Linked DNA regions of Homo sapiens. The protein of the gene in region 4 purifies or fractionates together with the protein of the main gene of each other region. This does not show direct contact. Each region holds a gene or a part of one and is shown on either strand. Other genes may lie near its edges.

The links.
Region 1: the proteins of MTMR9 (region 4) and ZC3H3 purify together in Homo sapiens (affinity purification with mass spectrometry; one large-scale study listed by BioGRID and IntAct). This does not show direct contact.
Region 2: the proteins of MTMR9 (region 4) and IFT74 purify together in Homo sapiens (co-immunoprecipitation; one large-scale study listed by IntAct). This does not show direct contact.
Region 3: the proteins of MTMR9 (region 4) and LRRFIP1 purify together in Homo sapiens (co-immunoprecipitation; one large-scale study listed by IntAct). This does not show direct contact.
Region 5: the proteins of MTMR9 (region 4) and SLC22A16 purify together in Homo sapiens (co-immunoprecipitation; one large-scale study listed by IntAct). This does not show direct contact.

The regions. Positions count from the first base shown.
Region 1 is NC_000008.11:143,470,539-143,477,364, forward strand, and holds part of ZC3H3 (zinc finger CCCH domain-containing protein 3), read right to left. Parts: exon of another isoform or gene 5,071-6,826; intron 5,048-5,070; coding exon 4,860-5,047; intron 1-4,859. UniProt on the Homo sapiens protein: Required for the export of polyadenylated mRNAs from the nucleus. Enhances ACVR1B-induced SMAD-dependent transcription. Binds to single-stranded DNA but not to double-stranded DNA in vitro. Involved in RNA cleavage.
Region 2 is NC_000009.12:26,957,631-26,964,456, reverse strand, and holds part of IFT74 (intraflagellar transport protein 74 homolog), read right to left. Parts: intron 2,509-6,826; 5' UTR 2,490-2,508; coding exon 2,370-2,489; intron 1-2,369. UniProt on the Homo sapiens protein: Component of the intraflagellar transport (IFT) complex B: together with IFT81, forms a tubulin-binding module that specifically mediates transport of tubulin within the cilium. Binds beta-tubulin via its basic region. Required for ciliogenesis.
Region 3 is NC_000002.12:237,777,909-237,783,513, reverse strand, and holds the end of LRRFIP1 (leucine-rich repeat flightless-interacting protein 1), read right to left. Parts: intron 4,093-5,605; coding exon 3,982-4,092; 3' UTR 1,871-3,981; downstream 1-1,870.
Region 4 is NC_000008.11:11,289,384-11,294,815, forward strand, and holds part of MTMR9 (myotubularin-related protein 9), read left to right. Parts: intron 1-5,432. UniProt on the Homo sapiens protein: Acts as an adapter for myotubularin-related phosphatases. Increases lipid phosphatase MTMR6 catalytic activity, specifically towards phosphatidylinositol 3,5-bisphosphate and MTMR6 binding affinity for phosphorylated phosphatidylinositols.
Region 5 is NC_000006.12:110,440,392-110,447,217, reverse strand, and holds part of SLC22A16 (solute carrier family 22 member 16), read left to right. Parts: intron 1-227; coding exon 228-345; intron 346-4,442; coding exon 4,443-4,974; intron 4,975-6,826. UniProt on the Homo sapiens protein: Facilitative organic cation transporter that mediates the transport of carnitine as well as the polyamine spermidine. Mediates the partially Na(+)-dependent bidirectional transport of carnitine.

The DNA.
Region 1 (6,826 bases), about 130 Mb from region 4:
GAGGGACGCGGCAATGCGGCGGTCTGTCGGCACTGCTGGTTCCCAGTCTCTCGCCCAGGCTGCCAGTGACACTGCGACGCCATCTGCTCCAGGCAGGGACACACTGGCATCACGTGCCCGCCTGGCAGGACCGGGTGCAGCAGGAGGGGTTACCTCCCTTTCCACTTTGTGCTCTTTAAAAAAATGCCAGTGTGAGGCTCACGGCAGGAGTTCTGACAAGAACAGGAGGCACTTTTTCAAATGCTTTGCAGTGTTAAAAAATGCACATAAAATAGCTGGCTGGAAAAGAAGCAAGGGCTGCCTGAGAAGTGCTAAAAAGTTCAACTGAATAACCCCCAGCAGCTCCACAGCAGAAGGCGCCATGCATTCCAGAGAACTTTCACTTCCCCGGGATCTTCTCAGAATAGACTCGGCTCCCACCAGCCCCACCCCCTGCTCGGTGCCCCAGTGCCAGCTCTGGGCACCGCTGGATGTCAGGCTCTGCAAGGCAAGCGGGGTGGGGGCCTTGCAGTCAGAGGTTCCTCAGCACCTCCAGGCCCTGCTCCGGCCAGCACCCACTGGACAGCTGCTGCCTGGCCCAAGGGACAACATCCACGATGACCGGGGCACGCAGGCAGCCCCAATTCCCAGGCCAGCACTCTCCCAAGAAGTTAGGCAGGGCTGCGCCAAGCCCTGGTCTGCTCACAGCGCGCCCACCAGGCCCTCCAGGGCACGTCCGTCTGGCACATGGAGGCTGTGCCCTTGGGAGAAGGCAGCCAGCGGCAGAGGGTGCCCCAGAAGAGGCAGTGTGGGGCGGGGGCAAGCCGACAGGGCCTTCGTCACCCCAGGGAGGGTGGGCAGGTGACCAGCAGGGGAGGCGCAGAGGCCGGACGTGCCAGGAACACGCAGCAGCTGGCCCACAGCAGGGAGGGCCACGGCCACAGGTGGCTGGGGGCTTTGGGGACACAGAACAAGCCAAGGCCAGCCCTGTGGCCAGAGACTGGGGCCTCTGCCCCACCACAGGAGCCATCAGGCTCATGGTGGCCACATATGGGCCATGCTCACTGGGGGCCCACACAGGATTCTGTGGGGAGGGACCCTGGAGCTCAGGCCTTCAGGTGGCAGGCGGGCCCAGGAGGGAGGGCTCGGCTTCAGGGACTGGGGAAGCTGGGGGTAGAAGCCATACTGTCCTCTGCCGTCAGGGGCCCAGAGCCCAGGGGGTCAGCCAGGACAGCCACCCCCACCCCTTCCAAGAAGGCTGCTGCACTTTCTTGTTGAAGTCAAATTTCTGCTGACACCAGGGGAGGAAATTTATTTCTTTAATTATTATTCCTCTTAAGTGGGCTGGTCAGCGGTATCCCACAGCTGGGAGCCATCTACCTTCCTCATGGCGAGGCGGGGCCGGTGGTGGCCCAGGCAGCTGGAGCTGTGGCCTCGCCTGTCGACCCAAAGGGCGAGTGCGGCCTCACTGGGCTCTGCACAGCCCCAGGACTGCCACAGTCGCCACCAAGGCTGGCCAGCGGGACACCGGAGGCCATAGCCCTACTCGATGGCAGGCGGGCCTCCCCAGGGGCAGGGGTGGGAGCAAGGAGGCCCCTGGACCCCTGCCTGCCCTGGCTGGCACCAGCCTCTGTGCGCCAGACCCTCCTTGCTGGCGTTGCTGAGGCTGAATGAAGGAGTTCTGGGTTGCTGCTGGTGCAGGGGTGAGACATGCCCCAGAAGGGCTGGGGGAACCAGACTGGCTCTCTGATGGCTCTGGGCCAAGGGAAGGGCCAACGGAGGCAGAGGCCAGTCAGCAAGGGTGGCCGGGATAGACTGTTCACAGTGTGGTGACGTCAGGGGCTCTGCGCCCGCCAGGGCTCTGCCATGTGTGTAAATGGCAAGGCGAGATTCTGCGGAGCTCAGCACTTGGCACCGACGGGGAGACACAGCAGCACCACAGCCTCCCAGGGAGGAGTGTGCAGCCCCTCCCTCTCCTCCCCACTGCTGAGCGGGCCAGGGCTATGCACTCCCTCCTCCCCAAAGCTCAGACCCTGGGCCATCCGGGTGGTGGGCACCGTGTCTGAGGGGGCCAAGTGCAAACCTGCTGCCTGCCACAGGCGTCTCTGTGGACACTGAGGGATGGGAGAGCTGGGATGGCAGGTGCACCTCCCCACACAGGCCCACCCAGCCCAACAAACGTGGGCCACAGGATCCCGGCGAGGGCTGAGACGACCCAAGGGCCCCGGTGCGGGGAGACGGACCCATGCCACAAGCCCCTCCGTGGGTCCCGCGGGTGCACGGTGCAGGGAGAATCCCAAGGACGCACCGCGACCTGGGTGAACAGGCGGGGCCAGCCTTGGCCCTGTGCAGGGAGTGGGATGCAGCTGCTGCAGTGGGGGCCACTCCCTGAGTGGGTGGGTCCTCCCTGGGATGGGCTCTGGCTCTGGAAAGGGCAGTAGGCATCCCCTCCCTGGCTCCAGCTTCCGCAGAGCAGGGCAGGGCCTGCAGACTGACTGCCAGGAGCAGCCTCTGCTGCCTATCCTGGCCGCCTGGGGCTCTCGCGTACGTCAGGACATCATGGTCTCCATGGCTGCTGTCTTGGCCACTTAATTATCAACCTCAGTCAGTACTACTATCGTGACTACCGGGAGCTTTCTGAATGTGGGTGCAGTGGTGCCAGGTAGACCCCGCCTGCCCCCAACCCATCTCCTCCCCCTGCTGGCTGTGCACAGGGTCCTGCGATGCCTCACGCCCCCTCCCACTCCTGCCCAGGCCTCTGCATGGCGGCCTCAGGATGCTCTTGCTGCTTCTGTCCCTTCTGGGCCCTCTCAGTTTTCAGCTCATGAGAAAGGCCTCCCTGACCACCTGACTGGACACGAGTCTGCGTATTTACACCTGTGGGCCCCAGGAATCTTCACTGGTGTTCAGCCCACGCCTCTCCCTGCACTAGGGACGTCAGAGGCAGCATCCATGGGAGATGCAGGGCACCCTCCCACCCAGGCAGGCAGGTGAGGGCTCGGGGTGCCCTTCCCTGGGCAGAGGGATCAGCCTGGCTGCTCTGCCCACTGCCTCTAGGACCAGAGAGGAAAGCCAGTGCCAGGACTGTGCCTGCAGTGTCAGTGCACTCAGGACAGTGCCAGCCAACGTGGGGCTTGGCCTCTGCCAAGGAGGCCCAGGGGAAGGTGGGACCACCCGGCATGAGCAGAGAGGCACCTCATGGCTTTGTCCCTGGGGGTCAAGCACGATGTCCTCAGAGCACCTGCTGCTGGCCCCGGGAGCTCCACTGGTCAGGGTCCCTGTTGGCTCACATGGCTGGTGGCTGGTGGACGGCCACAGGCGCCTGGGACCTGCTGTGCCAGAGACTGGCCAGGGGCTTATACTTCACTCAGGGAAATGACTGCTGGAGAGAAGCCCGAGGCCCCTCCCCTCCACGATACAAACAGCTGTGTGTAGCCCCACAGGCCACCAAGCTCCAGAGTCCGAGGATCAGAGGTAACCAGAGAAGGCCCTGCTGGGTGACAGGAAGGCCTATCCCCCAACCCACGGCAGCATCCCCCAGGGGCAAAGCCTCACCAAGGCCCCCATGTTCTGAGCCAGCTCCTGCACTGAGCACCCGGGGTGTAGCAGAGATGAGACCACACGCACAAATCACACAGCCCAGTCCCTCAAGGTACGGGTGGGGAAGCGGAGGCACACACAGGGGTGACACAGTGCCCAGGAAGGGACCCAGGGCTTCTCACCAGATCCTCAGTGAGTGGGAGGCACACACAGGGGTGACACAGTGCCGAGGAAGGGACCCAGGGCTTCTCACCAGATCCTCAGCGAGTGGGGATTTATTCCTGCCCAGTTCACCAGGACCCCCCAGCCCCAGCCACCAGGCTACAGGCATGGTCATGGGCACTGACCAGCCACAGTGTGGCTCAGAGCCCTGTGGGGCAGGTGCCAGGGCCCCCGTGCTGCTCCCAGCGACTCTGCCCAGGAAACAGCCCAGAAGCCCCTGGAGCCCAGAGATGGATGCTAGGAACACAGCCAGGCAGGGCGGCCAGTGAGGCTGGCTTCCAGGGAGGTACGCTTCCTGCCTCTCCTCTGACCCCCGCAGACCCTGCCGTCGGAGTCTACCTCCTCCAGGGGCTGAACCTGTTCTCTCTCTAGGTCCCAGGCGGGTCGGGGAGCCAGCATGGCCCAGCCTCTGCAATCCCAACACCACCTGCAATCTCCCTCTTTTTTTTTGATGGACAAGAAAGGGGGTAAAATTGGACTGAAACCAAAATATTTTTCTAGTTAATTTGTAGGATAAGTGAATCCAAAGCATTTCCTTCTCCTGAGCCTGTTTCCCTGGGCTGGGAGGGCGCAAGGTGGCGGCGCCGGCTGCCTCCAGACACAGTTGTCGAGGCGTCGCCAATGCGATTACGGGCGCCGCGGCCCCAGGTGTGCGCTCGCCCGGGCGTGTTTGCCGTACCTGGCATCATCCTTTTTCCAAAAGCGAAACATGGTGCTTGTGAGCAACTCTCCCCCACCCCACAGAAAATCAGGGGCCGCTCAGCCACGCGAGGTGGGCGCCACTCCAGGGCCCTTCCTGGGGGATGGCAGAGGAAGGCCTCCTGGCACCCTCCATTCTCCGGCTGCCCTGTTGGTCTCACTAGGGATGGCTACGAAGGCGCCGGGTGTATGGAAGAGTGAAATTAACTCCCAGGATGGGACGTGACCCATTTGGGAAGTGCTTGTTTGGACTGGCTCCCTGGGAGCATGAGGCCCCTGACCTCCTCCCCAAGACAGGGGCGTGAGCCAAGGCCCAGAGCAGCCACAGCATGTTGGAGGTTAGGGGGTCTGGCCTGCAATGCCCACCACACGCTAGCCGGTCGGTGTCATCTCCCAGCGCCCCCGCCCTCACCTCTCACCTGTGCGCAGGAGGGGCCTGCTGCCCGCATCACTGGGCTGGCCGGAGGTCTTGGAGAGCTTGTTGGCAGATACTTTGTAGAGGACCCCTCCGATGCAGCGGTAGCCTTTGCTCCGCCACCAAGGGGAGCCCGGTTGGGCTTTCCCACCCCCGCTGGCAACTGGACGCAGGCGGTTCAGCACCAGGGACCTGCAGAGACAGGAAATGCCCGTCAAACCTGGCCCCAGGACAGACTACAGCTCTGATGGTCAGTGCCAGGGGCCGAGCCCAGGCCTGGCCTCCCAAGGGGGACAGGGAGCAGCACTTGCGGTGGGTACACACTCCAGCTGGGTGACCACGGGCCATTGGCCCAGCTGCCAAGAGACCTCTGTCCCCCTCTGGCCCCCAACCCCCACCTCAGGGACATTTTGGCCGTCATCAGGGAACACTGACAAGGAGTCCCAGGAGGTGGCGCCCCCGACCCCACCCACGAGGCTGGGAACTCATGCGCCCCTAGAAGCCACGGTGAGAGGGCAGCGTCGTCCTCCAGTGCACACCTCCCCGTGGATATAACCACCCCTGGGCCCTGACCACCTGGCTGTGTGCTGCAGGGTAAGGGTCCCTGGGGCTGCAGGGCAGAGGGGCTGCAAGGTGTCTGCGTGTTGGTGAGAAGCACACCTGGCCCTTGGCACCTGGGCTGAGGCTCCCTTGAGTCGGCTTCAAGGCTGGGGCTATTTCTACCAACCGGCCCCAGCACATACCACCCTGGCCGTCAGGACCACAGACACCATAGGGTCAGCAGGCTACCCTGCCTCTTCTCCTCCTCCACCCTGTCCTGCCTCCCCTTCATCCACAGCTCAGAGAGCCCTGCACTGAGAGGGCATGGGGACAGCCTCACAGACCCCGGGCCAGGCTGTTTGAGGGAAATGCTGATGTTGCCTCAAGTCCAAGGGCTGAAGAGGCCGCGACAGCCCCTGGAGTTAGCTGAGCTGATGACCCTGGCTAGAGGAAGAGACCTAGGCCGACAGACCCTGAGCCCTGGCAGCCCCCACTCCTGCCAAATACTCCACAGCCTCCAGGAAGCCAAGGGGCAGAGTAAGACAAGAGGGGCCTGAGCTGCACTCCAGAGGCACCTCCCTGCAGCTGCCAGCCACACCCACAGCCCTGCGGACCCTCGGGCAAGCAGCCCCCAAGGTGGGGGGCTCAGGGCCTGGCAAATTGAGCTTGATTCCACATGAGCTCACGCTCTGCTCAAGCTGCCATGACCCCTGAGGTGGATACCACACCCCCAGCAAATCTGGGCAAGACATTTTTGGGCAGCCATGGGTGCGCAGGCAGCAAAGGGACCAGTCAAGTGGGAGGCGAGGACGGGCAGCTCAGGCCTGGCACAGGGCTGTGCCCCTGCTCTACGCTCCCCATCCCACACTGGTCCCCATGGCCCTGCAGCTACACAGCCCTCTCTGCTGTGGAGTACCTGAGCCCCCCAACCCATCCACAGCCGCAGGAGACCCTTTTCCAGCTGGTCTGGGCCAGGGTGGGGTGCCCCCTAGACCCAGGCCCGCAGCATGCATGAAGGTGGGGCTCGCTTGTCTGGCTGGATGGGGCAGGTACAGGGGGACAGCAGCATATCCATCAAAGCCACCCACGAGGAGCCAACAGACCTGGTGGTACTGGGGATGGAGCAGCCCTTCTGTCGGGTTCCACCGCCATCCCCACCACTCAGCCCTGCAACCCCTCCGGGCCTTGGTCCCTCTGCCTGCAAGCTGGGGTAATTCTCAGCAGCCGGGGGCCTCCAAGGGCCCATTAGAGAGAGAATGGGAGCAGAGAGAGCCCGGTGCCGGGGATGGGAGCTGCAGTGTAAGTACAAGCACGGCGGCTGGAGCACTTAACCCAGTTTCCTTTAATTAAAATTCAAGTTCACAAACACCAATCTTGGCGGGAAAGAGCCCACCAAGGGGCCTGGCAGTGCTGAGTGGTCTGCTGGCCCCC
Region 2 (6,826 bases), on a different chromosome or scaffold from region 4:
AAAAAAGAGCCCGCATCGCCAAGTCAATACTAAGCCAAAAGAACAAAGCTGGAGGCATCACACTACCTGACTTCAAACTATACTACAAGGCTACAGTAACCAAAACAGCATGGTACTGGTACCAAAACAGAGATATAGATCAATGGAACAGAACAGAGCCCTCAGAAATAACGCCGTATATCTACAACTATCTGATCTTTGACAAACCTGAGAAAAACAAGCAATGGGGAAAGGATTCCCTATTTAATAAATGGTGCTGGGAAAACTGGCTAGCCATATGTAGAAAGCTGAAACTGGATCCCTTCCTTACACCTTATACAAAAATCAATTCAAGATGGATTAAAGACTTAAACGTTAGACCTAAAACCATAAAAACCCTAGAAGAAAACCTAGGCATTACCATTCAGGACATAGGCATGGGCAAGGACTTCATGTCTAAAACACCAAAAGCAATGGCAACAAAAGCCAAAATTGACAAATGGGATCTCATTAAACTAAAGAGCTTCTGCACAGCAAAAGAAACTACCATCAGAGTGAACACGCAACCTACAAAATGGGAGAACATTTTCGCAACCTACTCATCTGACAAAGGGCTAATATCCAGAATCTATCTACAATGAACTCCAACAAATTTACAAGAAAAAAACAAACAACCCCATCAAAAAGTGGGCGAAAGACATCAACCGACACTTCCCAAAAGAAGACATTTATGCAGCCAAAAAACACATGAAACAATGCTCATCATCACTGGCCATCAGAGAAATGCAAGTCAAAACCACAATGAGACACCATCTCACACCAGTTAGAATGGCGATCATTAAAAAGTCAGGAAACAACAGGTGCTGGAGAGGATGTGGAGAAATAGGAACACTTTTACACTGTTGGTGGGACTGTAAACTAGTTCAACCATTGTGGAAGTCAGTGTGGCGATTCCTCAGGGATCTAGAACTGGAAATACCATTTGACCCAGCCATCCCATTACTGGGTATATACCCAAAGGACTATAAATCATGCTGCTATAAAGACACATGCACACGTATGTTTATTGCGGCATTATTCACAATAGCAAAGACTTGGAACCAACCCAAATGTCCAACAATGATAGACTGGATTAAGAAAATGTGGCACATATACACCATGGAATACCATGCAATCATAAAAAATGATGAGTTCATGTCCTTTGTAGGGACATGGATGAAATTGGAAATCATCATTCTCAGTAAACTACCGCAAGAACAAAAAACCAAACACCGCATATTCTCACTCATAGGTGGGAATTGAACAATGAGATCACATGGACACAGGAAGGGGAATATCACACTCTGGGGACTGTTGTGGGGTGCGGGGAGAGAGGAGGGATAGCATCGGGAGATACACCTAATGCTAGATGACGAGTTAGTGGGTGCAGCACACCAGCATGGCACATGTATACATATGTAACTAACCTGCACAATGTGCACATGTACCCTAAAACTTAAAGTATAACAAAAAAATAAAAATAAAAAAAAGAAAAAAAGAAAAAAAAAAAAATTAGTAAAGTTTACCTTTTAATTTTAAGATTCTGATCCTATATATGGTATATATATTATAAATGTTTTTACCAGTTGTCATTTCTAATTTTTTATGGTGTTTTATTTTTTGTAAATTCAGATATATAATAAAAATATTTTCCTTTTCAGTACTTGTTATTTCTGTCATGTTTAGAAAGCCTAGCCCATATCAAGTTTATACAGAATACTTGCCAACATTTTCCTCTACTACATTTATGGTTTCATTTTTGAAATACCAAGTTTCTAAGCTATGTAGAATTCTGATAAAAGGTATAAGAGAGGATTAAAAATACTTTTAAACAAATGGTTTAACAATTATTGGAATGTTCTATTGAATGCTCCATGTTTTGCCAACTAATTTGAAACACACATTAATCATTAACTAAATTCTTATATGCTTGATTCTATTTGAGGTCTATTCCATTTCATTTTATTCTGGCCCCAATACACTATTCAACTAAAATTATTGCAGCTTTAAATTGAGTATCTGCAGGAGCAGGCATCTTCTTCCCAGAGTGTCTTTCAAACACTCTTCCACATTTACATTTCCAGATGCTTTCCAAAAAACAAAACAAACATGTTTAATAATATGCTTATGAAATAAAGAAACAACAAAGTAGAATCTCTTATTACAGAGGGGATTTCCAACTTCTACCACAATATATGCACAAGCATTCAACAGATTTTTGAGACAGTCTCAAAAACTCAAAAACTGGGGTGCAGTGGCATGATCAGAGTTCACTGAAGCCCCAGTCTCCTGGACTCAAGTGGTCCTCCCACCTTGGCCTCCCAAAGTAAATAGATTTGTTTCAAACTTACTGCAGTTGCCACTCGAATATTTCCTGATAGGGGTCGTATCCCAGAAGGAGGCCTTCCTGTTAACCCAACTCCACCTCTTGAAACAGGGCGAGCTGCTGAAGATTTGTGATTGCTGGCCATTGTTTCTTCACTTTAATCGCTGTTTGGAAACAATAAATAGTTCAATCCTTTGATGTCTTCTCTAGCAAGACAATAATGACCCATCATACCCTTACATTTAATTCACAACAATTGTTCTTGCAAACTGCCGTTCTGTGTACCACTACAAGGCTAATTTTGTTCAAATATGACATCGTGCTCCATTTACAACTATGAGATTGTTTCTTGCAACATTCCTTCCTCATCTTTCTATTATCTTACCAAAATGCAAGCCCCTCTATTATCTATTTCTTTAGTATTCTCATCCCATACTCTGGTAAATTTTCTCTCCCATCATAGCCAACATCTTTCTTTGCCCCTAATCCTTTCTCTGCACTTTCTGGTCCATGATTAACTCTTATATTCTGAATCTTGTTACAAATACTTTCTATTTTCTTAACTTTAACAGAATCTTGATTTCCCCTGAGAGTAACACTTTCGGTAGTCCAAGTGTTTTAGCTTCCTGTCCCACAATTTTAAAGAAAAGGAGGTGGCACTTTTCTTGCTCCTCAGGGTCACTTTCAAAACATTCTTCCACACCTTTAAAAAAATTAACAAGAGGCCAGGCGCAGTGGCAAACGCGTGTAACCCCAGCACTTTGGGAGGCCAAGGCAGGTGGATCATGAGGTCAGCAGATGGAGACCATCCTGGCTAACACAGGGAAACCCCGTCTCTACTAAAAATACAAAAAATTAGCTGGGCGTGGTGGCGGGTGCCTGTAGTACCAGCTACTCAGGAGGCCGAGGCAGGAGAACGGCATGAACCTGGGAAGCAGAGTTTGCAGTGAGCCGAGATTGCGCTACTGCACTCCAGCCTGGGCGACACAGCGAGACTCCATCCCCCCACCCAAAAAAAAAAAAAAAAAACAAGATTCACTTCTTCTGAGGATCTGGGAATGCAACAATATTGCCTTGATCTTTCCTGGTTGCTGGTAATTAGTGACTTCCTAATCTCTCCTCTATCTTTACTAAAGTCTTTTGTACCTAGTTCACAGCTTCTCTATTCCAATCTCACCATCACCCTGGATGACTTCCATCTAGATACTAGATCCAATACCTAACACTCCAGCTTCACAGTTCCCTGACCTCAACTTTAGCAATGATCTTAACTCCATTTCAGTAATTTATAGCCATGGCGAGACATGGAGCTTGTCATCATCTGGAATTGCTTCACCTCAAACATCTTAATTGAAATACTCTATTCTCTGGTCTTCTCCTCTCCTACCCTTTTCTCATCTTCATTCTGCTACACCTGCCTTTAAACCATTTCCTTAATTCACTCATTCTCTCCCAGTTTATCAGCCCTCTCCTTTATTCATCAGAATATAACATTATTTAAAATTCTGTCTCATAATTTAGAGTAGTAGTTTTCAAATTGTTGGTCACATCCGTTAGTAAGTTCTGAAAACAATTTTGTAGGTTATGACCAAGATACTTAAACGTGAAATAAAATTTAAACAAAAAGAGCTCACTGAAAATATGAAGGGTAAACATTGTTTCAGTAAATTTTTGTTTCAGCTATATTTACATAAATTTACACATATGTGTTTACTGGGCTACAATATAAAAATGTATGTCCTATTGTAGGTCATATAAAATAGTTATGAAGATACTTATCTAGACAAAGAATATGGAGAAAAAGAGAATAGTGCCCAAGATTCTGTCCTGAGGAACATCAATACATACAGATTACACACAAGAGGAAAATCTAGTATGAGAGACTGAAAATTAAGGCCCAGAAAGCAAAGAAAAAAACCAGGAGTGTGTGTCAGAGACGCCAAGAGAAGGCAGGAATCTGAGCCATGCCATTTACGTTGGAAATTCAAGTAAGATGAAAACTGAAATGTCCAATGGAGTCCCCATTCAAGAAGTCACTAGTGATACCTTGACAAGGGTGTTTAAGAACTCTCCTCCTTCTCTCAAGAAATTAGTGTCTCATGAGCACTATCAACTAATTTGTATCCTTGAACTATTCTCCAGCCCATCTGGCAAAATCAGAAACCCTTCTCTACATCCAATCTGAAGTGCTGAACATTGCTGATGGAAATCATACAACTGTACAGACTGGGGTACTGCAAAGTGATAGTCACAAATCTTAGCTGGACCCTCATTTCAGAAATGATTTATCCTTGTTAAGATACTTCTCTACTTGATGATTCTCACCCTTAACTACTTTTCTATTTAACCTCTGTTCCTGCCACTCTCAGCAGATGACTCATTTAAAAAAATTACAACTTGAACTCCATCACCTTTGGGGCACATAAACTTCTCTACATCCATCCTGCCCTCCAGTCTCAACAGCCATTCCTTCTCTCATTCAAGATCAATCTTACTCTGATTTACCCTTGATCCCATCTTTTTTGTGGCATTAACCTCACTGCTACCAATTATCTTTAAACTTTCTCCTTTCCTTCAGTCTGTTACCATGTTCAATTCTTTCCTACCTTCAAAAACTTATTTCTTGATCCTGCAACCACCTCTATCTAACTGTCCCATACATCCTTCCCTTATGCAGCCAAATTCCTAAGAATAGCTTATATCCAGCCGGGCGCGGTGGCTCATGCCTGCAATCCCAGCACTTTGGGAGGCCGAGGCGGGCGGATCACGAAGTCAGGAGATCGAGACCATCCTGGCTAACACGGTGAAACCCTGTCTCTACTAAAAAATACAAAAAATTAGCCGGGTGTGGTGGCGAGTGTCTGTAGTCCCAGCCAATCGGGAGGCTGAGGCAGGAGAATGGCGTGAACCCGGAAGGCAGAGCTTGCAGTGAGCTGAGATCGTGCCACTGCACTCCAGCCTGGGCGACAGAGCGAGACTCCGTCTCAAAACAACAACAACAACAACAACAACAACAACAACAAAAAGAATAGCTTATATCCACTATTTTCTACTGCTTCATTTCCCAGTATCTCCTGGATTGCTACCGTTTGATTCAAATGACCCCTGCCAATATTGCCAGTGCTGTAAATGTCATCCTACTTTACTGGTGTCCACATTTATATGAAACATCTCCATGACACTTCCCTCTCTTCTGGTTCTTTTTTCTGTCTCCTTGATCTGTCCTTATATAGAGCATTTTCTAAGATACCATCCACCATCTTTTTCTTTTCTCTCTCTAAACTCCCCTTGGGCCCCCTTATCCACACTCAGGGTTTTAACAATTAATAAACTGATTCCACACAACTTCCTTATTTTAGCACTCAGCTTGCGGTGTTTATATCCAAATAATAACATCTCCACTTAGATGTCTAAATATTTCAAAATAAACATATGTAATCCAAACTCATTATCATCTGCTCAAAATTTGTCCTTCCTCTTGGTGTCACCTCCTAGTCACACAAGTAAGAAATTTAGTCCTTGACATCTTCCTCTCCCTTACTCCCATGGCTGGTCACATAGTTCTACTGAGTTTGTTTTGTTTAGTTCTACTGATTTTGTTCCTAAGTGTTTAACAGGTACTTTACTCTCTATTCCTACAGCACTGGCCAATTCAGGGCATCACTGACTCAGGTGGACTATTATACCAGCCTCTTAAGTGGTCCCCTTGCCTAACACACATTTTGCCTATTACTTTCTCTGGGAATCCTTCCATGACCAGTCCATAACTGGTCTTGGAATCTTCGTCTTCTTCAATTTCAGTGTATAGGCCTGTTCTACATGCTACCATGCATCCTGTGTATTACTTTATTCCAGAACCTATCACACCACTTGAAATGATCTGCTTAAGTATTTCTCACCCTTTATGGCAAGAGCTGAATCTTAATCATCTTTATATCCCCAAAATCTGTCTCAGTGATAAGCAAAAACTTTGTTCTCTCTTGTATCTTTTAAATTTCCTCGTACATAAAGGTATTGCCAATTACAAAAATTTACTAAATTGTTAAAAAGCAAACAAAGCGACCGGGAGCGGTGGCTCACGCCTGTAATCCCAGAACTTTGGGAGGCCGAGGCGGGTGGATCACGAGATCAGGAGATGGAGACCATCCTGGCTAACATAGTGAAACCCTATCTCTACTAAAAATACAAAAAAAAAATTATCCGGGCGTGGTGGCGGGCGTAGTCCCAGGAGGCGGAGCTTGCAGTGAGCCGAGATCGCGCCACTGCACTCCAGCCTGGGCGACTGAGCAAGACTCCGTCTCAAAAAAAAAAAAGGCAAACAAAGCGTGTGTTGGACTAAAATGATTTCTCTGTTTCTACACTCTATGTCCAGTACTACTTTTCTGACTTTTCTTAGCATTACTCGTAATCAGTCCTTGGACTGCTTCTATCCTTTCTACAGTCATGCATCTTTATAACTCCAACTATGTGTACGGCTCACTA
Region 3 (5,605 bases), on a different chromosome or scaffold from region 4:
AAAAAAAAGGGAGTTTCCCTGCACAAGCTCTCTTGTCTGCCACCATGTGAAACATGCCTTTCACCTTCCAATAAACCTCTTTCTTTTGTAAATTGCCCAGTCTCAGGTATGTCTTTATCAGCAGTGTGAAAACAGACTAATACAGCAGCCCCCTGGGATTTAGGAAGTATTAACATAAACTTCAAATATTTTCTTTCTTTTTTTTGAGATGGAGTATCGCTCTGTTGCCCAGGCTGGAGTGCAGTGGTGTGATCTCGGTTCACTGCAAGCTCTGCCTCCCAGGTTCATGCCATTCTCTGCCTCAGCCTCCCGAGTAGCTGGGACTACAGGCGCCTGCCACCACTCCCGGCTAAGTTTGTTTTTCTATTTTTAGTAGAGACGGGGTTTCACCGTGTTAGCCAGGATGGTCTCAATCTCCTGACCTCGTGATCCAGCCGCCTTGGCCTCCCGAAGTGCTGGGATTACAGGGATGAGCCACTGCACCCAGCCAACAGATATTTCTAGCTCAGAGTTCTCTTCCCAAGTCTCTGATGTTCTTGTTTCTATGCCACCCAAGAGGATGGACAATTGGAAGAGACAAATCCAGCCACAGACAGTGCAACTTCACTCAGGGCCAGTGGAGCTCAGGACCTGCTTAGCATTTAGTGCACCTGGGGACCAGGTAGGAGCCATCCACAAGTGGTGATCAGAGCTATTCTGGCAGAGAGGGGAAAGAAGCAAGCAAGGGGGAACTGGCAGGGGTGGGGGGCTGGCCATACATGGAGATACACACTAGCAAGTGGTTAGGCAGCAGCATCGAGGGGCATGGCAGCAAGTACAGGGCTGGGGTTCAGGGACAACTGTCCAGTCCTTGAGTGATGGGAGCTAGCCCTGGAGGCTCCTGGACACAAGGGCAAAAGGCCCTGACCACAGAGCTGGAATCCTCTAAGCCTCCGCACATCCTTAACACTGGGTAGCAAGTGCTTCCGAAATGTGGCTGAAGGTGCAGGGAGCCAGGCAGGTCAGTGGACATCAGCTCTATCCCCTTCAGATACTCAGGCAGGCTCGGGAACACGTGGGCCACATCTGGCTCGGGTCATTTAGTGAAACACAACAGATGCTTCTGCCGGTTTGAAAATTTGCAACTGGCTGGCTCCACATAGCTAACAGCTGGCACTTCCCCACCCCTCCGCCTTCTGCTATGGCCATCCTCATGCATGGCTGTTCTCTCCCTGAAAACCACAGCCTCCTTAAGGTGTGCATTCTTCTGGTATTCCTCAAGGGCTCAGCACTGTACAAACCAGAAATCCAAATTTGCTAAGTAGTAACACATTTTCAAAAATATCAACAGGAACTTTTGATGCTTTAGTTGATATTTTGACTATGAAAATGAGGAATTCTAAAACACAAGAGAAAATAACATTTGATTGTAATTCTGAACTGCATTGGATTTTTATCTATTTATGTTATCCATTTATGATGTGTTTTGAGTGTTTTGCTCTATGTCCTAGATGTTATTTCATTTCTAAAAATGAAAATCATTCATAGGAAACATACAACAGGGATCCTGGTCTGGGTTTTCAACCATTTCTTTTCCAAATCTTCTAATTCAGGTTACAGCAGTGGTTCTCAATGGGAGGCGCTTTTACACGCCCCTCACCCCCGCAGTGGACATTTGGCAATGTCTGGTGATGTTTTTGTGTGTCATGACCGGGAGTGGGGTCTACTGGCAATGAGTTGGTAGAGTTCAGTGTTGCTGCTCAACATCCCACGGTGCAGGGGACAGCCACCCCAGCCACCAAGAACGACCCAGCTCCAGACGACCGTCGTGCTGAGGCTGAGAAACGCTAGGTTGCAGGGATGAAAGAAGCCAGCAACCAATTTCCATTCGTTACATCTGCAAAAAAAGTTTTATTTTACTAAATAAATTTAAAAATCGTGTTCTAGCTTCCTCTGGATTAGGAAGTGTGTGTAACATTGGTTTGCTGTTTCCAAAAGAATTGGTGGGAGAGGTAGAGACTGAAGGCTTGACTTCCTCAGAGCCACTGATAGGGAAAACGCCATCTTCTCAGGGCTGTGAGACACCTGGGAATCGATGCCTTGCAGCCCTGTTCTACCAGCTGGGAGACTTCTGCCAGTTCACCTTCCTGGACCCTGGGTCCCTCATCTGTAATGTGGATTTGATAACAGCATCTACCTCATAGAATTTCCGTGCAAATGAAATGAGTGAAAATATGTGAAAATTGCATGAGTGAAAAATACCTAAAAGCGTCAGCATGCTGCCGGCCGTGTCTGCGTGATGTGTGAGTGTTTGCTGCTGGTGTTATTCACGCATGACATAGACATTTTCCCAGTTAAACATGCTTGTATTCAGATGTTGTGGAAGAAACCTTAAGGATGAGACAAGGAACTGAATATCTCCCTTTTGCCGGTGGGCCCAGCATGGTCAGCACAGGGTCCCTGAGGGGCTTCGTCCAGCTTCCTTCCTCTTTCCTGTTCATACGGTGCCCGGGTGTGCAGTGTGGGTCTCCCAGTGGTGCCCACCTGCCAGCACATTTTGCTCACCTGTCCGACCCGTGGTTTCCTACTTGCCAGTGTTGGCCCCCAGCCCCCTATAACTTGTCTGCTTCCCAATGGGCAGTGGCAAATATCCTCTGCACAAGGAGATACAAAAATCTTGTGTATTTTAATAGAGATTTCATCTCTTTCTTAATGCAACGCAGCTGTGTATATCCTAGATCCATACAGTTCTGGGGGATGGACACTGGTGACCCCTAGCATTATGCTGGGAGTGTTTTCTTGATTATATACCCTGAACTCACAACCCTCACTCCAGCATTCTCCATGTGTTAAGACTAGATATGGTTTTGGATGATACTGACTCAGTTTCCACTTGCTAACGTCCCGAAAAGCTGACTGGCTTCACCAGCCATACTTGAAATACAACATATATGAACAGTCACTAAAAATCAGCAGGTAGCTAAACGTTTTTACTTTTGTCCTTGATGATATTGCCATCGTCTCTACTGTTACCTCCTCCTTCACTTCACTTTTTAAGTGCACTCATTCTGTGAAAACACCTTTTTTTTTAAATAGGGAAAGAAAAATGAATTGACTTGATATTCTTAAAAAATAAAAAGATGACCCAAAATATACAGAACCATTAATATGAAATTAAAGATCTTCTTTCTCAGTGGAAAAAAATTAGAACCACATTGCTGAAGTCTCTCAACATTTCATTTTTAATTTTTCTAATAGTACATTCTTTAAAAGAAGTTAACGACTTCAATTCCAAATATAAGGATTAAATAATGCAATGAAAAGCTGTCATTTTCAGTGAAGCTATTGCCTAATTACCCTGGAAAAAAGTATTCTTATGACTGAACTGATGCAAAAATCCCTTAGAAAAGCTTCATTTGTTGCCTGTAAAGAGTCTTCTTAAGGTCACTTTTACTTCTAGACTGCCCCCTTGTTTCCAGTGAAAGAGTTTTGCTTGGTAATGGCTTGTGGTTCCACAGTGTTTTGTGTATGAAAAGCGTAGACTAAGAGATACTACTGAAGTCGCTCAAATTGTAGATTCTGCCATGAAAGGAAGTCCCAACACTGTAACATTTCCCCTTAATCTTCAGCAAGACACATGAAAAAAAAAAAAAACTCAAGTCCCAACTGAATCTTTACTTTGATCATCACTTCCAGCGGCATTCAGAGGCTGCTGTGCGGTCAGACACAGAGCTCCCTCGAGGCCCCTGTGTGCTTATGAAGTACCTGCAGGTTCTGAGCGTCGGCGCCAGCCCGGGCCAGGGGTCTGCAGACAGAGGCACCTGGTGGCTGCTGGGGCTCCCTGGGGTGAGCCATGGCACGGGAGCCCCTAAGCGCCAAGCTCGCCACGGTCTTCGTCTCTCGGAAGGCAGGGGAAGAAGCAGCGCTCCCAGATAGGACAGAGAAAAGCCTATGAAACAATGCTCTCCAGTCACCAACCAGTTGCCTGATCAGAGCTGGAATTTACTGCTGGGACAAGAGTGCACTCCGATTTGCTTTCATTTTTTCCAGACGCTTCACTAAGTGGCCGTTGCTCACCTCGAGCTCTTCTGTTTTATCCAATGCAGAGCGGAGCTGGGAACGGAGGAAAGGCAGTGAGCTTTAAGGAACTTGTTTCCTCCAAACATAACAGGGTTCTGTGTTACCGAAATTCCAATCCTACTGAAAAATAAAATGATAACTTGGCCCCTGGTCCCTCATGATGCCCTTCCTCCTCTGAAACAACTGGACTCCAGAGAGGGAACACCCTTGGGGATCCTGATGGTTTTCTTTTTTTTTTCTTGAGATGGAATCTCGCTCAGTCGCCCAGGCTGGAGTGCAGTGGCGTGATCTCGGCTCACTGCAAGCTCCGCCTCACGGGTTCAAGCGATTCCCCTGCCTCAGCCTCCCGGGACTACAGGTGTGCGCCACCACCCTCAGTTAATTTTTTGTATTTTAGTAGAGACGGGGTTTTGCCATGTTGGCCAGGATGGTCTCGATCTCCTGACCTCGTGATCTGTCCGCCTTGGCCTCCCAAAGTGCTGGGATTACAGGCATGAGCCACCACGCTCGGCCTCTTTTTTTGTTTGTTTTTTTTTTTGAGACAAAGTCTCGCTCTGTCACCCAGGCCAGAGTATAACGGTGTGATCTTGGCTCACTGCAACCTCCGCCTTCTGGGTTCAAACAATTCTCTTGTCTCAGCCTCCTGAGTAGCTGAGACTACAGGTGCACACCACCACACCTGGCTAATTTTTTGTATTTTATTAGAGATGGGGTTTCACCATGTTGGTCAGGCTGGTCTTGAACTCCTGACCTCAGGTGATCTACCCACCTCGGCCTCCCAAAGTGCTGGGATTACAGGCGTGAGCCACACGCCCAGTGGGGATCCTGATGGTTTCACAAAAGGTAAGTGAGGCATGAGGTAAACAAACACAAACAACAAGAGCTGAGCCTGGACTGCATGGCGAAGGTGGTCCCCACAGCCCTGGCAGCCAGAGTCCAAGGCAGGAATGCCTGAGGCCAAGACGGCCACACCTGGGAGCCAGGGCCATGGAGCCTGAGAGTCAGGCAGAAGACGAGCTGCAGAAGCCACATTAGCAGGGCATCATCTGGACCCACAGGCAGCAGGGCAGAGTGGGGTGCCCTAAGCTGGGAGAACGTGGTTTTGGAGGGGTGACAAGAACAGGGTCTATGGCTCTGCTTTCGACCCAAAACACTCAAGGAAGCTTGTTTGGGTCCTGGGACAGAAGTCCCGACCCCACCTCACTAGCAGAGGCAGAAGCAAGCCCTTTTTGCAGGAAGTTTCCACAAGTTAAGCCTGGAGTTATTCCTACAAATTAAAATCAAGCATAAGCTCACAAAACACTAAGGTGACAAACCATTTGAGTGAGAGTCAACAGAAGCAATAAATGACAGAATTAGACCCCCAAAGACTGAGCATGTTTCAGTTGTCAGATACAGAAAACCAAACAGCTGTGTATGAAATATTTAAAGAATAAGAATACAATTTAAAAAGAGGACATACATGAACATGCAGCAAGAAACTATCAACAATGAAGACACTTTTTAAAAAAAATGGTGAACTGGAAAATCTTTGCAAAAACTTTAG
Region 4 (5,432 bases):
TGCTTCACAAGTCTGTGGAATACTTTCATATATATCGCTTACATCATTTTATTTGATCCTTTCAACATGCAAGGTTGTATACAAGTTTTACAGTTATACCTGGTTTTTTTTTTAATGGACCTCAGAAAATTGAGTTACTACTACTCAGTTGATGACTCATCATTTTCATGATTGATTCCTTAAAAGGTTTCCTCTGTTGTTGATTTTCTTCCTCCCTAATTTTCACTCCCGTTTCCTGCCTCATCCACAATCCCTGTAGGCAACCACGTTAGTTGTTGCTATAAAATAGATAGCACTATTGTGTATGGGTGTGCGCACACATGCATGTGTGAGTTTAATTTGCCTAACTGGGATTATGTTGTAGATCTTGTTCTGCTTCTTAATATGGTGACACAATACTGTTTCAAGATCTCTTCATATTGCTGTGTGTACAACCATTTCACTGCTTCTGACAGCATAGGATTCCAAAGTATCTAAAAGAGCTTCCTTAACAGACCTTTTAGGTAACTTCCAACTCCCTGCTATCACAAACAACTCTGGTAAACATACTCATTCATGTCCCTTTATATAGTCTTGTGCCATAATTGCTCTGAGACTGCCCCTAGGATGGGATGGCGCCATAAAGTAGGTGCGTATCTCATTTCACAAACTAATTGCTTTCCAGGATGACAATTGCACATTGCCTTCCCATGATGGTGCAGGAGAGGGTACCTCGTCTCCACTTTCTTACCAACATTTGGTATTGTCTTTCTAATTTTTCCAGTCTGAAGATTGTGAAATAGTTATTGCTTTGTTTTAATTTGAATTTCATTAATTATTAGTGTTTAATTATCTTTGTATATGCTTGTGAGCAGTATACTTAAAATTTTTTTTTTTCCTTTTTGTGAATTGCCTAATTTCTGTGGTCTACTTTTAAACATTGGGTTTATTGTCCTTCTCATGTTGATTTGCATGGGTACCTTGTATACTCTGTGGGTGTTCATTCTCCATTTAGGCATTACGAATGTTTTCTAGTGTGTCACCCATCTGTTGTTTTTTTCTGTGGTGCCCTTTGTTGAACAGAAATCTTTACTTTTAATGCAGAACTTGCCAATGTTTTGCTTTATGGTGTGTGGCTTGTCTTAAGAACTCCTTCCCTGTCCCCAAATCACCAGGATGTTCTCCTACATTTTCTTCCATAATAGCTTCATAGTTTTACTGTTCATTTTTAGGTCTTTAATTTGGATTCTATCTTTGTTTCAAGTGTGATAAGAACCTATTTTTCTCCATAGAGCAAGCCAGTTTTCTTAATCCCATCACGTGACAACCCAACCTTGGCTGGTTTATGTCAAGTTATCCTATATATACGGGTCTGTTTCTGAGCTCTCTGTCATAATCCATTGGTTCATTAATCTGCTCTTTTGTCATCATCATATTCTCTTTCCTTCTGTGGCTTTGTGATGTGTCCAAAAATCGGATAGTGCTAGTTGCCCCGCTTTCGTTTTTTTTTTTTTTTTTTAAAGTTGACAACTATGTTTCGACCTTTATGTTTCCATGCAATTTTGGAAAACTTGCTATGTTCATGGGATTTTTAAAAGTCTTTAATAATAATTGAAGACTCAAAGGCAGTTGCAAAAATTGCACATAGAGGTTTTAGAATCGTCCACTCAGCTTCCCCTAATGTTGACCTGTTTTATAACTGTAGTGTAATCAAAATGAGGACAAAATTAGGACATTGACATTGGTGCAGTACTATTAACTAGACCACAGACTTTATACAATTTTCATAGGATTTTAAAAAAATGAATTGTTTTGGATTTATAGATTAATTGGAGTCAAATTGACATCTTGACATCCATGAACAATGTTACATTATTTATTCAGATCTTCCTTTAAGTCCCTTAGTGGAACTTTAAGATGGTGTATATGCTAGGTGCTGTACTAGGAGCTGAGGATATAGAAATTAATCAAACATGCCTTCTACCTGAAAAAACTAAGACCATTATAAGAAATAAACATATAAACTAGAAAGTTTAATAAAGTATTTTAAATGCTGTGATAGGGATGTATACAGGGCATGGATGGGACAATAAGGACAAAATGATAAAATAGAACTGAATCTGACAATTGATGTGAATCATAGGAGTTTTGTGGAGCTCTTATGTTTTTAAAACATATTTTTCTTGGCCCACTGTTCTATAAGTAACTGACTAGAAACATTGAATAAATGAATGGAGAATACCTTAATAGTTTATAGCATATTTATTCTGACATAAAGTAACAATTATTTTTAACTCCTCTAGTCATTCATTATACTTTATAGCAACTACATAAAACCTGCCAGACTAACAAAACAAAATTCACCTTACAAAATGAGTTAGTATGACAAGCATAGATGATATGGAAATTTACAAGAGAATAACCGTATGTCTTGTACATTTTTTTTGTTTTTTTACTGACAGTTTGGTTGCTGTGTGTCTTTCACTTCCAGCTGAAGCAGAATGACAGTGATTTTTAAAACAGTTTTATTGAGGTACAGTCGACGTATTACACACTATATATATTTGAAGTGTAAACTTTGATGTGTGTTGATATATGTACACACCCTGAAACTGTCACCATAAGTTCAAGATAATGAATTTATCACCCCCATAAGTTTTGTGGTGCCCTTTCGTAATCCCTTCCTTCTTTTCTTTTCCAAGTAGTCACAGATGAGTTTGCATTATCTAGAAATTTATGTCAGTATATCATAAATCATGCAGTACTCTCTTTTGAGATTTGTCCATGTTGTATATATCAATAGTTCATTCTTTTTATTGCTGAGTACTAAGTGTCCATTTTGCAGTATTCCATAGTTCATTTATTCACCTGGTGATGGAAATGTGGGTTTCCAATTTGAGGCTATTAAATAAAGTTGTTTTTAATATTCTTATGCAAGTCTTTGAATGAACATGTGGTTTCTTTTCTCTTGGGTGGCAAGCCATTTACTTGCCAGTGGAATGGCTGGATCAGATGTAGGTATGTGTTTTACTTTTTAAGAAGCTGCCCCAACTGTTTTCCAAAGTGCTTGTACCTACAGTTCTACATACCTATGAGCAGTGTGTGAGAGTTCTATTTCCTCCACATTCTTGTCAGCATTTGCTATGGTCTGTCTTTTAAATTTTGGCAATTCCAATAGATGTTAAGTGGTATCTTACTGTGGCTTAAATTTGCATTTCCCTTATGACTAGTGGTGTAGGGCATCTTTTCATATGCTTATTTGCCATCCATATGTCTTTTTTTTGCTAAGTGACCATCCATATAGTTTTCCCATTTGTAATGGATTATTTGCTTTCTTACTGCGTTTTGAGAGTGTATGTTTGTATATTCATACACAGTCATGTGATTTATTATATATATGATGGTAGTCCCATAAGATTATAATGGACCTGAAAAGTTTCTCTTGCCCAGTGACGTTGTGTTTGTGGTGATGCCAGTATAAACAACAAACCTGGGCTGCCAGTTACACAACAATGTAGCACATACCATTGCATACATCACATAATATTTATAAACGATCATAAAACGACTTTGTTACTGGTTTATGTATTTACTATAGTATACTTGTTATTGTTATTTTAGAGTATACTGCTTATACTTCTAAAAAGAATGTTAACTGTAAAACAGCCTCAGGCAAGTCCTTCAAGAATTATCCAGAAGAAGGCATTATCATCACAGGAAATGACAGGTTCATGTATGTTATTAATATTTCCCCTGAAGACCTTCCAGTGGGGCAAGATGTGGAGATGGAAGACAGTGACATTGATGATCCCAACCCTGTGTAGGCCTAGGCTAATGTGTGTGTTTGTGTCTTAGGTTTTAACAAGAAAGTTTACCAACAAAAATTTTTTAATTGGAAAAAGCTTATAGAATGAGGATATAAAGAAGGAAAATATTTTTGTACAGCTGTATGGTGTGTTGTATTTTCAGCTTAGTGTTATTACAAAAGAGGTAAAACGTTAGAGATTAAAAAGTTTATAAAGTAAAAAAGTTACAGTAAGGTAAGGTTAATTTATTGTTGAAGAAAGAAACATTTTAACAGTAAATTTAGTGTAGCCTGTTGATGAAGTCCTCAATAGCCTACAGGAATGCCCCGTGGCTTACCTTTTCATGCTCTTTAACCCTGTGTTTCAAAGAGCAGACGTTTTACATTTTGAACATGTCCAATTTGTCAGTTTGTTCTTTTATAGATTGGGATTTTAGTGTCTTATCTAAGAAACCATTGCCTCACCTAAGGTCACAAATATTTTCTCTCATGTTTTCTTCTAGCAGTTTTATAGCTTTGGGTTTTACATTTAGGTAAAAGGTCCCATTTTGAGTTAGTTTTTGTATATGGTTCATGATTATAGATTCAAATTCTTTAAAAAAAAAAAAAGCTATCCAGTTGTGCCAGCACCATTTGTTGAAAAGACTGACCTGTCTTCAATTGAATTGTCTTCGTATCTCTGTTCACGTGTAAGTGGATCTATTTCTGGACTCTTTTTTTCTGTTCAGTTGATCTGTTATCATCATGTCATTTTCACACTGTCTTAATTACTGTAGCTTTATAGTAAGCCTTGAAATTGTGTAGTGTTAGCCATACCACTTTGTTCTTATTCAAAGTTGTTTTGGCTATTTGAAGACATTTGCATTTCCATATGAATTTTAGAATCACCTTTTCAGTTTCTACATTAAAGTCTGCTGTGATTTTGTTTGGAATTATGTTGTATCACTGGATGAATTTGGGGAATAATTGACAATAAAAAGAAAATTCTGGGTACATTTACACAATCGTCATCTGCAAATAAAGGTAGTTTTACTTCTTTTTTAATCCTTTTTTATTCTTTTTACCTTACTGCACTAGTTATAACCTTGAGTGCAATGTTGACTAGAAGTGGTGACAGTGAACATCTTTGTGTTATTCATGATTTTAGAGAGAAATAATTCAATCCTTCACCGTTAAGTGTGCTATTAGATTTAGGGGTTTTTTTGTGGGGTTTTTTGTAAATGCCCTTATCAGGTTGAGGAAGTTCCCTTCTGTTTCAAATTTGCTGAGAAATTTTTGGTTTTTCATGTTTTTAAATCAGAAATGGATGTTAGATTTTGTCAAATACTTTCACTTTTTTTTTTTTTTTTTTGAGACAGAGTCTCAACTCTGTCACCTAGGCTGGAGTGCAGTGGCTCAGACTCGGCTCACTGCAACCTCTGCCTCCCGGGTTCAAGCGATTCTCTTGCCTGAGCCTCCTGAGTAGCTGCATGCCACCACGCCCAGCTAATTTTTTGTATTTTTAGCAGAGACAGAATTTCACTGTGTTAGCCAGGATGGTCTTGATCTCCTGACCTCGTGATCCACCCGCCTTGGCTTCCTGAAGTGCTGGGATTACAGACGTGAGCCACGGCACCCGGCCCTTTTGCTTTTTATAAATTGATACATA
Region 5 (6,826 bases), on a different chromosome or scaffold from region 4:
TCAGGTATGTATATTAGCAACTCAGGTAAAGGCCTCTCCACTGAACAGCTGGTCTTTTAAAGAAGCCATGGAACTTATGGTTTGCTCAAAATAAATAAAAGAAAAACAATCAATACATAAGCTATTCAAGGTATATAGGTAATGCCTATCTTTTATGAATTGGAGTGGATGTTTAAACTGTTACAACTCTACCTTTCCTCTTCCACTGTGTGACTCTTATTTTTCAGGCTAGGACGCCGGGTGGTCTTGTGGGCCACAAGCAGTAGCATGTTTTTGTTTGGAATAGCAGCGGCGTTTGCAGTTGATTATTACACCTTCATGGCTGCTCGCTTTTTTCTTGCCATGGTGAGTTGTGTTTTTTACTTCTTTAATTCTGCTGCAGTTTTTCATAGGAAACCTTAACTCTCATCATTTTGCTCATTTAAGATCTAGTGAGCGAGATCAAGGACTCATCTTTGTCCACTCCACTGCAGAAGTCTGCCTACAGAATACCAATGCCTTATGTTTAGAATGGAACTCATTAAAGTGAAAAATTGTTGCTGGCTAGGCAGAAGTGTGTTTGCCTCTGTGTCGGGCATGTGGTCCACATGTCACAATTACTGAGGCATTATTTTCTTTCTGAGTAATCATATTGGTCTAGTCAGGGCCTGTTCACATGAGCAAACAGACAGTTGAGGTGTGTGGTTAAAGTCACTTGTATAATGTACAGGAAGAATGAAAACAGGAGGGCATTAGGTCCTTATGTTACCAGGAACGGCAGTTTAGTGGAAAGGGCACGAGTTTGAATACCAGCATTGTCATATATTGGCTTGTTAGTTGTATGATCAGTATCCTCTTTGAACCTTTGGTTGCAGTCTGTAAACTGTAGAAAAGAATCTGTGTTTATTATTATTATTCTCAGGATTCAGTGAGATTAAGTATAAACAACCGCAGTACAGCACCTGATTACAATGGTAACTTACTAGAAATGGACTAGCGAGCAAGGAGGCTGTTTCCATGCTCAGTGAGGCTTCCAGATAGATTTCCAACTATCAAGCAACATCAAGAATAATAGAGGGAAGTTTCCATCTGGAGGAGGAGCTTGTGATCTTGCTAAATGCAGAGCAGCAGGTTGGATGGTCTGAGGGTCTGGAGAGAAGCAAAGGGCTTCAATCTCTCTGCACCCCCTCAGAGAACAAGATGGGGTGTCAGTTTTGGAGTCTTTTTTGATGGATAGAAAGGGTTTCTAGCAAACCATACAGTTGGCCAAGGATAAGGAAGATGCATAAAAATAAATCTAGGAGACTGGAAGGTGTTGTACCTCATTAAAAAGTAAATATATATATTTAGGAATGTAAAGAGTTTTAAATACAAGATAGCAACCAGTAGTTCTGTTTCCACTGAGGACATAACTCTGTGACTGTAGAGTGAGATTTCACGAGAGAAACCTTCTGGTGGGACTGAAGGCTCCACAAAGGCACAGGTACTAAGAAAGTATAAACATCATCTTTTGGAAGACTTAAGAGGATATTTCTGAAAATATCTGTTTCAGTCTTGCAAAATACCACGCGTTGGCTTCTATACCCAAGGAAACAAGGCCACACCCATAGAATACATCCGTGAAATGTGGCCTTAATTTTCTGTGACTGTTTCCGTTGATGTTCATGGGGAATGGATTTGTGGGGGAATTCTGTGGATGGGAGATGCAGGCAGATTCATTTACTCAACACATTTATTGATCTGTCTACAGAGTGTAATGCTAAGTAAACCAGACCCAGCTGTCTCAGTAAGTCTAGTAGGAAAGGCAAGACGTTGATCAGCCATCTTCAAAAATAAATAAAATGTTGACAGTGAGGGCATAACATCAGTGGGTCTGGAGCGTTCACCAGGGTCTGGAGGGTCAAGGGTTTTCTCACTGTGAGGGATGGGTGAGAGAAGAATATTCCAGCAAAGATAGAAGTGGATGAAAGGGCCCTGAGATGAGAAAGAAAAGCCGGAATGTCTGGAGAATAGAGAGGAGGAGAGACGCATTGATGAGGCTGAAGGGATCAAGGCGGTTAGGTGGGGCTTTGTAGGATTGTCAGGATTTTGCTCTATCTCCTAAAGGCAATGGCAATCCACAAAAGGGATTCCAGGAATTCTGGCTGCTATGAGGGGGTGGATTCCGAGAAGATGTGAGTATTATTATCAGTGGAAGGGATGGGTGTGAGTGGATTCACAGAGTGTTTTGGAGTTAGTTGTATATGGATTTTCTGAATCCAATAACAGAGGAAGTTGTAGCTGACTCATGAGAAATAATTAGCATTGAAAAACCTGACAGGGACAAATATTACAGCTTAATTTAACTGGGAAATTTATAGTATTTGAAAGTTATCACAATCTTTGTTAATGTAACAGCAGCGCTTACCAAAAGCGACTTCTGGATTGTTAGATGTAGGGTCCCGATGATCTGAGTCTTGCCATTACAAAGTTGCACAGGGAAATAAAAGCTGTTGTCACAAAAATATTAAACTGATTATGAATACAGTAGTCCTCATCAAGCACCTCCCTGCCTCCTGCTAGTGTCAACCCTTTCTGACAGCAGGAATATCCTTGTAGGCCGGCCTCTTTGTGACTGTCCAATGCAAGGAGAAATTGCAGTTATTACAAGGGACACATGTTTACAAAAAGTCTTTAAAAGCAGTGAGGGAACAGGGGAACACTGCCTGAATCCTGCCCACAACCTTTGGCCAGTGGGGATCTGGCAGAGAGACCTGTTAACTTTTGAAGAAATTAACATCTGCAAGGATAATCACATAATGAGCCTTTGAAAGAGTATGATTCAAATATCTAATGATTAAGAGAAGCCTTTGGGGAGTGGTGCTCTCGAATAATTTTACAAAAGTTAATTGTATGATTTGTGTTGTAGAAGTCAAATATGAAAAAATTTTGTAGAAAAAATTCTTCCCCTCCTCCTCCCAAAAAACCCATCAATGGACTCATTCTTTGTTTATTTCAAGAATGGTCACATATTATATTCTAATCACATATTGTAATCTAATTTTTATTAAAGATAGTCATATTTCCAAAATAAAGTTTTTCCCCAGTTTTCCTTCTTGTGGTAAAGTACATATAACACAAAATTTACCATCCTAACCATTTTTAAGTGTACAGTTGAGTGATATTAAGTGCATTCATACTGTGGTGCAATTATCACCACTGTGCATCTTCAGAACTCGTTTTCATCTTGCAAAACTGAAACTCTGTCCATTGAATAATAACTCTCTGTTCCCTGTCTCCCTAGCCCCTGACAACCACCATTCTACATCCTGTCTCTATGAGTTTGGCCACTCTAGGTACCTCATGAAAGCGGAATCATATGATAGTTGTCTTTTTGTGACTGGCTTATTTCCCTTAGCATAATATTCATTGTATGCATAGACTACATTTTTCTTATCTATTCATCTATGGACGGACCCTTGGGGGGTTGCTTCCATGCTTTAGCTGTTGTGAATAATGCTATGAGCAGGCATGTGCAAACATCTCTTCCAGACCCCACTTTCAATTCCTTTGGGTATATACTCAAAGGTGGAATTGCTGGATCATGCTGTAATTGTTTTTTGAGGAATCGTCATACTGTTTTTCCTAGAGGCTGTGCCATTATACATTTCTCTCACATATTACACATGGGTTCCAGTTTCTCTACATTCCCGCCAAAACTTGTTATTTTTTTTTTTAATTAGCCACACTAATGTGTATGAGGGGGTATCTCTTTGTAGCATTGAATTGCATTTCTCAATGATTGGTAAAAATTTGTATTTCTTCTGTTTGAAATGTCTGTTCAAAGCCTTTGCCCATTTTTGAATTGGATTGTCTGTGTTTTTGCTGTTGTTGGATTTTAGGAGTTCTCCATAAAATCCCTTATCAGATATTTGATTTGCAAATATTTTATCCAGTTCTGCAGGTTGCCTTTTCCCTCCATTGATAGTGTTCTTTGATGCACAGTTTTAATTTTCATGAAGTCTAATTTGTCTTCTTTGCCTGTCAAAATAGAATTTTAATTAAATCAGTTTTTCTTACCACTAGTTAGCGTAAATTTTTTTGTCTCCATTTAGCAGTTAGGATTTAACAATAAGGACCTCCTGGATACAGATAACTTGATGTATGCATTTACAAGGAATGGAGAAATACATCCACAGTATAATGAAATATTTAGATGACACAAAAGACAATGTCTAACATTTATATCATAAATAATCTCTCAAGTTTTGCCATTTGGGGTGGGGAGGATGAGGGAAGATGAAAGGACCTATAAGAAAAAAAGATAGATCGGATTGAATGTCATTTTATACATCTGATAGGGGTTTCAGAAAGCAAGTCTTTGTCATTTTCTTTTTTGCCTATATGTGATTTGCAATGGGGTCAGACTCCTCAATAGTTATAAATGTGACCTTGAATATAAATCCCTATTATTTGTTTTTCAGGTTGCAAGTGGCTATCTTGTGGTGGGGTTTGTCTATGTGATGGAATTCATTGGCATGAAGTCTCGGACATGGGCGTCTGTCCATTTGCATTCCTTTTTTGCAGTTGGAACCCTGCTGGTGGCTTTGACAGGATACTTGGTCAGGACCTGGTGGCTTTACCAGATGATCCTCTCCACAGTGACTGTCCCCTTTATCCTGTGCTGTTGGGTGCTCCCAGAGACACCTTTTTGGCTTCTCTCAGAGGGACGATATGAAGAAGCACAAAAAATAGTTGACATCATGGCCAAGTGGAACAGGGCAAGCTCCTGTAAACTGTCAGAACTTTTATCACTGGACCTACAAGGTCCTGTTAGTAATAGCCCCACTGAAGTTCAGAAGCACAACCTATCATATCTGTTTTATAACTGGAGCATTACGAAAAGGACACTTACCGTTTGGCTAATCTGGTTCACTGGAAGTTTGGGATTCTACTCGTTTTCCTTGAATTCTGTTAACTTAGGAGGCAATGAATACTTAAACCTCTTCCTCCTGGGTAAGTAGTTACAGTATATTTAAATTTGGCAGTGAAGTGAGATTTCTACCATTTGTGTGTGTGTGTCTGTTTCTGTGTGAATTTGAGAAAAAGAATGTTTTTAATAGGCCCTTTAAAACCAGGAACAATACTGCCAACCATATTATTATGATATCTCTTAGTGTTATGTTGTAACACATGTACATATGAGGGGACTTCAACCAGTTCATGGAAAAATGGCATTAAAAGACAAAAATTTAAAACATAAACTTTCTCAACATGATTGCCATCAAGGTCAAGACACTTTTGTACGACATCAGCCATTTATTCCATCCTTAAAAAACTGAGGGTCCTGAGAATGTACCCATGTCAATGCAGTCTTATTTACACTATTAACTGAAGAAAAATGGGTGCCGCGTACAGACTTTTTAAGATTAGGAAACAGAAAGAAGTCAGAATGAGCCACCATGAGAACTGTTAAGGTGGCTGCCTAGTGATTTCCCATCAAAACTCTTGCAAAATTGCCCTTGTTTGATGAGAGGAATGAGCATGCCCATTGTCATGGAGGAGAAGGACTCTCTGGTGATGTTTCCCAGGCATTTTTCTACAAAAGCTTTGGTTAACTCTCTCAAAACACTCTCCTCATAAGCAGATATTTTCATTCTTTGGCCCTCCAGAAAGCTAACAAGCAAAATGCCTTGAGCATCCCCAACAAACGTTGCCATGACCTTTGCTTTCGACTGGTCCACTTTTGCTTTGACAGGACCATGGCCCCCCTTGGTAACCATTGCTTTGGTTGGGCTTTGTCTTCAGGATCAGACTCGTAAAACCGTGTTTCATCTCCTGTTACAATTCTCCAAAGAAATCCTTCAGGATCTTGATCCCACTTGTTTAAAATTTCCATGGGAAGTTCTGCCCTTCTCTGCAGCTGATCTGGGCACAACTGTTTTGGCACCCATTGAGTGGAAAGTTTGCTCAACTTTAATTTTTCAGTCAGAATTCTGTAAGCCAGACTAATTGAGATATCTATGGTATTGGCTATTGCTTCTGCTGTTAATCTCAGTCTTTGTCAATTAGGGCATAAACAAGATGTATTTTTTTCCTCAATGTGGATGCTCTGCCACTGTGGTCTTCATCTTCAATATCGTCTTGTCCTTTCTTAAAATAAGTTATCCATTTGTAAACTGCTGATTTATTTGGGGCTTTGTGCCCGTAAACTTTTCATAAAGCATCAATGATTTCACCATTCTTCCACCCAAGCTTCACCATAAATTTGATGTTTGTTCTTGCTTCAATTTCAGCAGAATTCATGTTGCTCTAGTGGGAGCTCTTTTCAAACTGATATCTTATTCTTCTTAGTGCCTCAAACTAGCTCCTCTTCAGACACGTTCTAAGAAGTTAGTACAAATTTCTTTTAGTGCAGAAAAAATCTGAAAACACATGCATAGTTTTTTCATAATATGCACTTTCCATTAACTTTTTTTTTTGGAAAAGGAGTCTTGCTCTGTTGCCCAGGTTGGAGTGCAGTGGTGTGATCTCAGCTCACTGCAATATCCGCCTCCTGGGTTCAAGCGATTCTCCTGTTTCAGCCTCCTGAATAAATGATATTACGGGCACATGCCACCATGCCCAGCTAATTTTTATATTTTAGTAGAGACAGGGTTTCACCATGTTGGCCAGGCTGGTCTCGAACTCCTGACCTCAGGTGATCCACCCGCCTTGGCCTCCCAGAGTGCTGGGATTACAGGCATGAGCCACAGCACCCCGCCGTCCATGACCTTTTTGAAAACTCCTTGTATTTTCCATTTGAAAAAAATGCATCAGAAGAATTTAGTCTCTCCCTTTCTGCCTTCTCTCCTTGCTCACCTTCTTC